Linked DNA regions of Homo sapiens. The protein of the gene in region 1 interacts with the protein of each later gene in a biochemical or structural test. Each region holds a gene or a part of one and is shown on either strand. Other genes may lie near its edges.

The links. The genes of interacting proteins can lie anywhere in the genome.
Region 2: the proteins of USP3 (region 1) and COL9A3 form a complex in vitro, tested with the Homo sapiens proteins (one study listed by BioGRID).

The regions. Positions count from the first base shown.
Region 1 is NC_000015.10:63,556,476-63,560,223, reverse strand, and holds part of USP3 (ubiquitin carboxyl-terminal hydrolase 3), read right to left. Parts: intron 3,558-3,748; coding exon 3,476-3,557; intron 2,119-3,475; coding exon 2,036-2,118; intron 368-2,035; coding exon 254-367; intron 1-253. UniProt on the Homo sapiens protein: Deubiquitinase that plays a role in several cellular processes including transcriptional regulation, cell cycle progression or innate immunity.
Region 2 is NC_000020.11:62,827,038-62,830,785, forward strand, and holds part of COL9A3 (collagen alpha-3(IX) chain precursor), read left to right. Parts: intron 1-203; coding exon 204-257; intron 258-885; coding exon 886-939; intron 940-1,726; coding exon 1,727-1,780; intron 1,781-1,885; coding exon 1,886-1,939; intron 1,940-2,417; coding exon 2,418-2,462; intron 2,463-2,590; coding exon 2,591-2,644; intron 2,645-2,728; coding exon 2,729-2,782; intron 2,783-3,322; coding exon 3,323-3,376; intron 3,377-3,479; coding exon 3,480-3,551; intron 3,552-3,748. UniProt on the Homo sapiens protein: Structural component of hyaline cartilage and vitreous of the eye.

The DNA.
Region 1 (3,748 bases):
GGCTGGTCTTGACTGACCTCAGGTGATCCACCCGCCTCAGCATCCCAAAGTGCTGGGATAACAGGCGTGAGCCACCACACCCGGCCGGAATTCCAACAATTATTAAGATTGCTAACTAGATATTTAAACACAATTTTTAGAAGATTTTTTTTAAGGCATGTGCCTGTTAGCTCACTTAGTACAATGGAAACCACCAGTGAAAGTAATTTGTTTTGTAACTCAAAGCCAGAAAGGACATACTCTTATAACTCACACATTGTTATCCCCTTGGCTCCTGGTGTGGTATGTCCGCCTTCCTGCTGTTTTCCCATTCCTTAACTCCACGGCGGGCAGTTCTTTGAAATAACAGCAAAACTGCTCAATGTTACTATTTTAAAAGGAAGGGAAAAATATTTTAAAAAGAAAAGAATAGGACTGTAAAGAAAGTTGATGAAGCCTACATATACATTTTGAAACTGCCATTTTTCAATTGTCTCATTTAAACTGTACTCAGTGCAATCTCTTGCATTCAGATTCTTCATTATGATTTTTCCTTCTCTCTAAGAAAACAGTATAGACAGATGACTTTGTAAAAAAACAAAAACAAAAAACAAAGAGCTGAAAACAAAATCTCTTTTCAAAAAAATCCCCAATTCTCCCTCCAGCTATAGGTAGTCACCATTTCTTTCTTTTCGGTTGCTTGTTTCCAGTTATTCAATAATTTCCTCAAATAAAAACAAACCATGAAACCGACCATATTATTTTGATACACTATACAGAATCCTAAGGAGAATTCAGTAGTAATTATAATTTCCTCTTTGAGCAAGAAGAGATAAGCTAAGAGGCAGTGCCTTCCAGGAGAGATCAAATATGCCTTCTGCTTCTTATCAGCAATGTAACCTTGGGAAGATCATTTATTCTGGCCTTTGATGTCTCATTAAAATCTAAAAGTATGCAACTTTCAAAATAATTTATTCTACAAAACTTAAGTCAGCCTTGTTGACTATTTTATTTTTACTACTTGTCTCATATTTTGAAGACATCTCATCTTATGACCTTGATTAACCCATTTATGCCTAGTGTTCCATTATTGGAACGCTAAGCTTCTGGGAGTTATTTATATCTTACTGATCGAGGTCATCACCAACGTCTGATTTTTCATACAGAAAAATTGCAACCTCTGACATAAATGGGTTAAAACTTAACTAATGACTGAAATAAGCTCTCTGAACAAGGCTCTCTGTAACCCAGGGGTCTGCAAACTGTAGCCCACAGGCCAAATCTAGCCCTCCACCAGGCAGCTCTTAAAGCGAGTTTTAAATTTTTAAAGTGTTGTTTTATTTAATTAATTAATTAATTTATTTATTTTTGAGACAGGGTCTCGCTTTGTCACCCAGGCTGGAGTGTAGTGGCGCCATCTTGGCTCACTGCAACTTCCACCTCCTGGGTTCAAGCGATTCTCCTGCCTCAGCCTCCCAAGCAGCTGGGACTAGAGGCGCATGCCACCACGCCCAGCTAATTTTTGTATTTTTAGTAGAGATGGGGTTTCACTATGTTGGCCAGGCTGGTCTCAAACTCCTGACTTTAGGTGATCTGCCCGCCTCAGCCTCCCAAAGTGCTGGTGGGATTACAGGCCTGAGCCACTGCACCTGGCCCTAAAGTGTTGTTTTAATAAAGAGCGGGGGGGTGGGGGATATCTGAGAGAGACTGTAGCCTGAAATACTAAAATGTTTACTATCAGGCCTTTCACAGAAAAAGTTTGCTGACCTCAGTTCTAGCCTATTCAAAAAGCAACCGGAAATAACCGCAAACAACTATTCACTGCAGGACACTGCTCTAAGTACTTTAGACAAATTACATTATTCAATCTTCCCAACTACCCCATGAGGTAGGAACTACTGTCCCCAATTTTACTGATGAGGAAACAAAAGCACAGGAAATTAAGGTATCTTGCTCCAAACCATATGACTAGAGTTAGTGGCAGACGAGATAGGGAGCCAGAGCCCGTGCTCTTAACCTTTAATGTCAGACACTTAAGCTCTGACTGTAGCGTTACCTGAGTGACTGAAGGATGGCATTCATGAAACATGTGTTCCCCAAATTCCGAAGGCCTGTGGCACAAATGGCAGTGGTGCTTCCCTGTAAGTGGTGCAAGAAGAGGCCATCAGTAATGCCAAGGGAAGGCCAACTGTTTCAAACATCAAAGCTAAGGAAAGGCCTCTGAAATCTAGCACCAAGCCAATTTGGAATTGGTCCTTTTCTGTCCAATGAATATTTCAAACAAACTCTCTAGTCTCTGTATAAATGTCTGGATATTTTTAGAAGGCTGTTTCTGATCCTGGGATTGTTCTAAATAGAAGTATCTTATTGAAAGCTTATGAGGAAATCACCATTAATGAGTACCATGGAGTACACAATGCAAAAAACAGGAAATCCTTAAAATAACATTTAAGACTTAATGCCTTTTTAAGATTCTATAAAAACTAAGAGAAATGGAAAAAATATAAATATATACACCCCAAGTATTTTTGTCCCCAAACTTTTAACTCTAAGCCATACATAAACGACCAATACACGTTTTCCTAACAATGGGATATGAATCTTGAAAAGCTGCCTGAGGCCAGGCGCCTCAAGACAGGCCGCCAACATGGCGAAACTCCGTCTCTACTAAAAATACAAAAAGGCTGGGTGTGGTGGCTCATGCCTGTACTCCTAGCACTTTGGGAAGCTGAGGTGGGTGGATTGCCTGAGCTCAGGAGTTCGAGACCAGCCTGAGCAACACGGTGAAACTCCGTCTCTACTAAAACAGAAAAAGTTAGCCGGGCGTGGTGGCGTGTGCCTGTAATCCCAGCTACTTGGGAGGTTGAGGCAGGAGAATTGCTTGAACCCAGGAGGCTGAGGTTGCAATGGGCCAAGATTGTGCCACTGCACTCCAGCCTGGGTGACAGAGTGAGACTCCATCTCAAAAAAAAAAAACAAAAACAAAAACAAAATAAAAGTACAAAAATTAGCCAGGCGTGGTGGTGTACACCTGTTGTCCCACCCCCTTGGGAGGCTGTGGCAGGAGAATCACTTCAGCCTGGGAGGCAGAGGTTCCAGTGAGCCGAGACTGCGCCACTGTACTCCAGCCTGGGCTACGGAGTGGGACTCCATCTCAAAAAAAGGAAAAGCCGCCTGAAGCTAAAGACTTAGTCTTAAAAACAAAGGCTGGGTTTTCTGATGACGAAGGAGTGTGAGCAAGTATTAAGAGTGAACTGTTTTCTAGGGAAGAGGAGCACAGCAGTAACGCTGATGGGAAGAAGGTGCTGACAGATGGACTCACTGGGGTCACGGCAACAATCGACAGTACAGGTGGCAAACATTGTGTAAAATACTCCAAATCCAAGACACACATTTATAAAAGTCTGTAACAGGTAACATTACATGTTAGAGTTGTAACAAAACAGTGATTAAATCTCAACTAACTCTTATATTTGAATAAATTTTAATTACTTACATTTACTTTTAATAACTTGCTGTTTAGTGTTGAGTTTTCCAAAAGTTTTCTTTTCTTATGCCTGTCAGCTGTGAAAGCTGAGCTATTAAAACACAAACAGATAGTGAAAAAGTTATTAATATATGCATGCTACACCACAGGTGAAAGAATAAACTCCAGCTGCCCTCAACACCTAGGGCATGGAGACCTCCCTGACTGCTTCGTCAGGCCTACTGGGGCCCACACGTATTTGAAGTTAACCGAGGAGCTCTACTTCCTTGGAAATCCCCATTG
Region 2 (3,748 bases), on another chromosome or scaffold:
AATGAGGGGTCACCATCGTCCCTCTGGCACCTCCAGCCATCTCTGACCACTCCTGGAGGGCCCAGGCCTGGAGGGGCCCCCATCCCACTCTCTGACCACTCCTGGAGGGCTGTCCCCCGCCCGGGCCTGGAGGGGCCCCCGTCCTACTCTCCGACCAACTCCATGGTGTTAACTCTGTCCCTGCCCCACCTCATCCTTTCCAGGGTGACCGAGGCGAGAGGGGCCCAGAAGGGTTCCGCGGCCCCAAGGGTGACCTCGTAAGTGAGAGGGAAGTTGGTTCCCTGGGTCCTTATGTGGAAGAACCCAATTTCCCTCCTGACTCGTGCTGGGGAGGGGGACACACTTGGGAGTGAGACTGCAAGGGGCTGCCTGGGTGGGCCTGGGGGTGCGTGGGGGTGAGCCTGACCCTGGAGGGCCCGAGCTCTCTCCCTGGCCCCAGCCGTTCTCCCAGAGCCACATGGGAGCTCTGTGGCCCCCTGCAGAGCGGCCCACGAGCCGGGTGGAGGGACCAGGCTCCAGGGCTTGGATCCTGCCCCCAGAGAAAACGGCTCTCGGGTTGAGCAAGTGAACATAAGGAAAGTCCAGAGGCAGCCAAGCGTTCCAGGAGTGGAACTGAAGTGACCGTCCCCAGACTGGTCAGCCTCCACACCTCCCTCGACTGAGCCCTGGCAGCCGGAGTGCAGGGAGCCGCCGTGCCGTCCTGCAGCATCTGTGGATCCAAACACAGTTTTCTCCACGCACCCACAGGCCCCAGGGTGGTGGTCGGGGGTGGCCCCTGCCGCTGCCCACCATAGCTCCTTGGTGTCCCCGAGCAGCTGGCCGGAGAATGCGTGAGGCCGTCTGGGAAGAGACTGCCACTGCTTCTGTCACTTGTGTGTCCTCTAGGGCAGACCTGGTCCCAAGGGAACCCCCGGAGTGGCCGGGCCAAGCGGAGAGCCGGTGAGTGCACGTGGCTGCTCATGGAATGCTCCTCCCCCGGGTCCTGGGTATGTACAGGTGGAGATGGCATTCAGAAGGGCTGGAGCTCAGTGCCCTCTGCTGTGGCCATCTTGAAATCTGGGTTAACGGTGGAACAGCCCCGCAGCCCCACACATTTCTCTCTTGCCCAGAGCCTCACGAGTGTGCAGGAGTAGGGGCCTCAGGCTGGGTTTACCTGCACAGAGGACACGGGAAGTAAGGGTGGGTGGGTAGCACCACTGGGCAGAGGTGGGCACTCCCAGGGTCCCGGGCACCCATGCGGGCACCTTCCTTCCTGCTGGGTGCCCACCCTCAGCCCAGACCTGAGCTCCCTTCTAGCCCCTCGTGTTGCCTCTGCCCCGGAGTAGTGCCCTGTCTTGGGACACCCAGCAGTTGGCTGTGTCCTGATTCCAAAACCAGTCCAGGGTGGACGAGGCAGGCCTGGCCTAAGGCCTCAGTTTCCCCACCGTAAAATGGGCCAGAACCAAACTTCCTTAGGGCACCATGATGTGCCTGGTGGACGAGGCCTCGGGCGTCAGCACTGCATCAGCACCGCCTCTGCCACCCACCCGCACCCCTCACCTGTGCGGTCACCGAGGCAGCACTGGTTGCCACACGGCCACCTTGGTCATGAAACCAGATAACTGCCAGGGTGTGGGGGCAGACACAGTTTTAGGTTGATGGGGAAGGAGGCTGCCCCCAGGGCAGGACTGTAGAGGGAGGGAGGGGGGCCACTGCCCGACGGGCCTTACTCATCCCTTGTCCCCAGGGCATGCCGGGCAAGGACGGCCAGAATGGCGTGCCAGGACTCGATGGCCAGAAGGTTGGCATGGGGCTCAGGGTGTGACGGGAGGGAGGGGGCTGGAGGGGAGTTCGGCCTCCCGAGGCCTCAGCCTCCCCTTCCGCACCCCAATCTCTGTCCTCACAGGGAGAGGCTGGTCGCAACGGTGCTCCGGGAGAGAAGGGCCCCAACGGGCTGCCGGTGAGTGCCCGGCGGGTGGGGCCAGCCTGGGGCGCCACAGCTTCTGCCTGCTCAGTGGCCCATGTTGGGCTGGGTGGGTTGGTCACTGTAGGGCCGACTCCCTGTGAGGGGTTCTGGGGCCTGTGTCCATCAGGGCCTGGCACAACCCCTGGTGCCCAGTGGGTGCTGTGGACGGTTGCCTGTATGTTTGCATGTGTGTGCTTATTCGTGTGTACATGGGACATGTGTGAACATGTTGATGGCCATCCCTGGATGCCGTGCGGTCATCACCCCCATGGGCTCTGAGTAGGGGCTCCTGCATCCAAGGCCAGGGAGGCTGTCAAAGCCGCACCTCAGGTCCACAAGGCTGGGAGAAGTTGGCCCTGCCTTTGGGTGCACTCACTCTGGCCCCTGCACCCTGCCTGCGTGCACGCCCCTGGGTGCTGCTGCCGGCGTGCAATGTAACTGGCAGCCCTGACCGCAAGCTCTCTCCTGGCAGGGCCTCCCTGGACGAGCGGGGTCCAAAGGCGAGAAGGGAGAACGGGTATGTGGCTGCAGCCGCTTTCTCTCTGGGAGGGGAGGCGAGGGGCCGGGAGGCAAGGGGCTGGGGGGCCAGCGACCTGGCCCCAGTGCAGGTGTAGGCAGGCACTCACAGCTCTCCTTCCTCTACAGGGCAGAGCTGGGGAGCTGGGTGAGGCCGGCCCCTCTGGAGAGCCAGGCGTCCCTGTGAGTATCTGCGGCGCCCCAGACCCCTCCCCATCCAGCCTGTGTGCAGACCCTGCCCTGACACCCTCCTTCCTTTCCCTGTAGGGAGATGCTGGCATGCCTGGGGAGCGCGGTGAGGCTGGCCACCGGGGCTCAGCGGTGAGTGCAGGGACATGGCCCGGGGTCGGGGGTTAGCACTGAGCCATTGGCACATGGCCCCAGTTTCTGAGCAGGCCGGGGTGGCATTTGGTTGCCTTGATGGGCCAGGCCCACAAAAGCCTAGGATGCCAGGAGGTGTGGGGCCCCATCTTCTTGTCCCTCACCCGCTGGGAGACGGTCGGGGCCAGGCCGGAGCTGCCCTGTTTTCAAGCCTTCTATGCTGAGCCCAGCCTTGTGCCCCCATAGACTGAGATAATGACAGCACCAGCCACAGGGCCCTGGTGGGGGGAGCCAGGGGCATGGGTGCCTGGCCCCGAGTCTGGCCTGACAAATTGGGTCCAGGGTATGCCTGAGTTCTGAGACCCCCTAAACTGCCCTGGGAGGTAGCCCTGCCTTTGTCCCCAGCAACCCAGCCAGGTGGCTTAGAACCGGCTCCTGTGTCCACCCACTCTGGGGGAAGGCTGAGCCAGGCTCCCTGGGGCCTCTTGGGGACTCCTCGAACCCTGAGACATCCGCTCACACCTCACCTTTGTCTTCCAGGGGGCCCTCGGCCCACAAGGCCCTCCCGGAGCCCCTGGTGTCCGAGGCTTCCAGGTGGGTGAGGTTGGGGCAAGGGCCTGGCATGGGGGGCGGCACACCCAGACGGGCCAGACCCGACAGGGTATGGGCACTGACGAGCCAGGACCTCCTTCCCCAGGGCCAGAAGGGCAGCATGGGAGACCCCGGCCTTCCAGGCCCCCAGGGCCTCCGAGGTGACGTGGGCGACCGGGTAAGTGGCCCTCTCAGCAGGAAGCTCCCCTGCACCCCCTCTACCCATGTACCACAGTCCCCCACCCCCATGACAGTCCCCCAACCCCCACCACAGTCCCCCAACCCCTACCACAGTCCCCCAACCCCCACCACAGTCCCCACCCCCTACCACAGTCCCCCAACCCCCACCACAGTCCCCCACCCCCTACCACAATC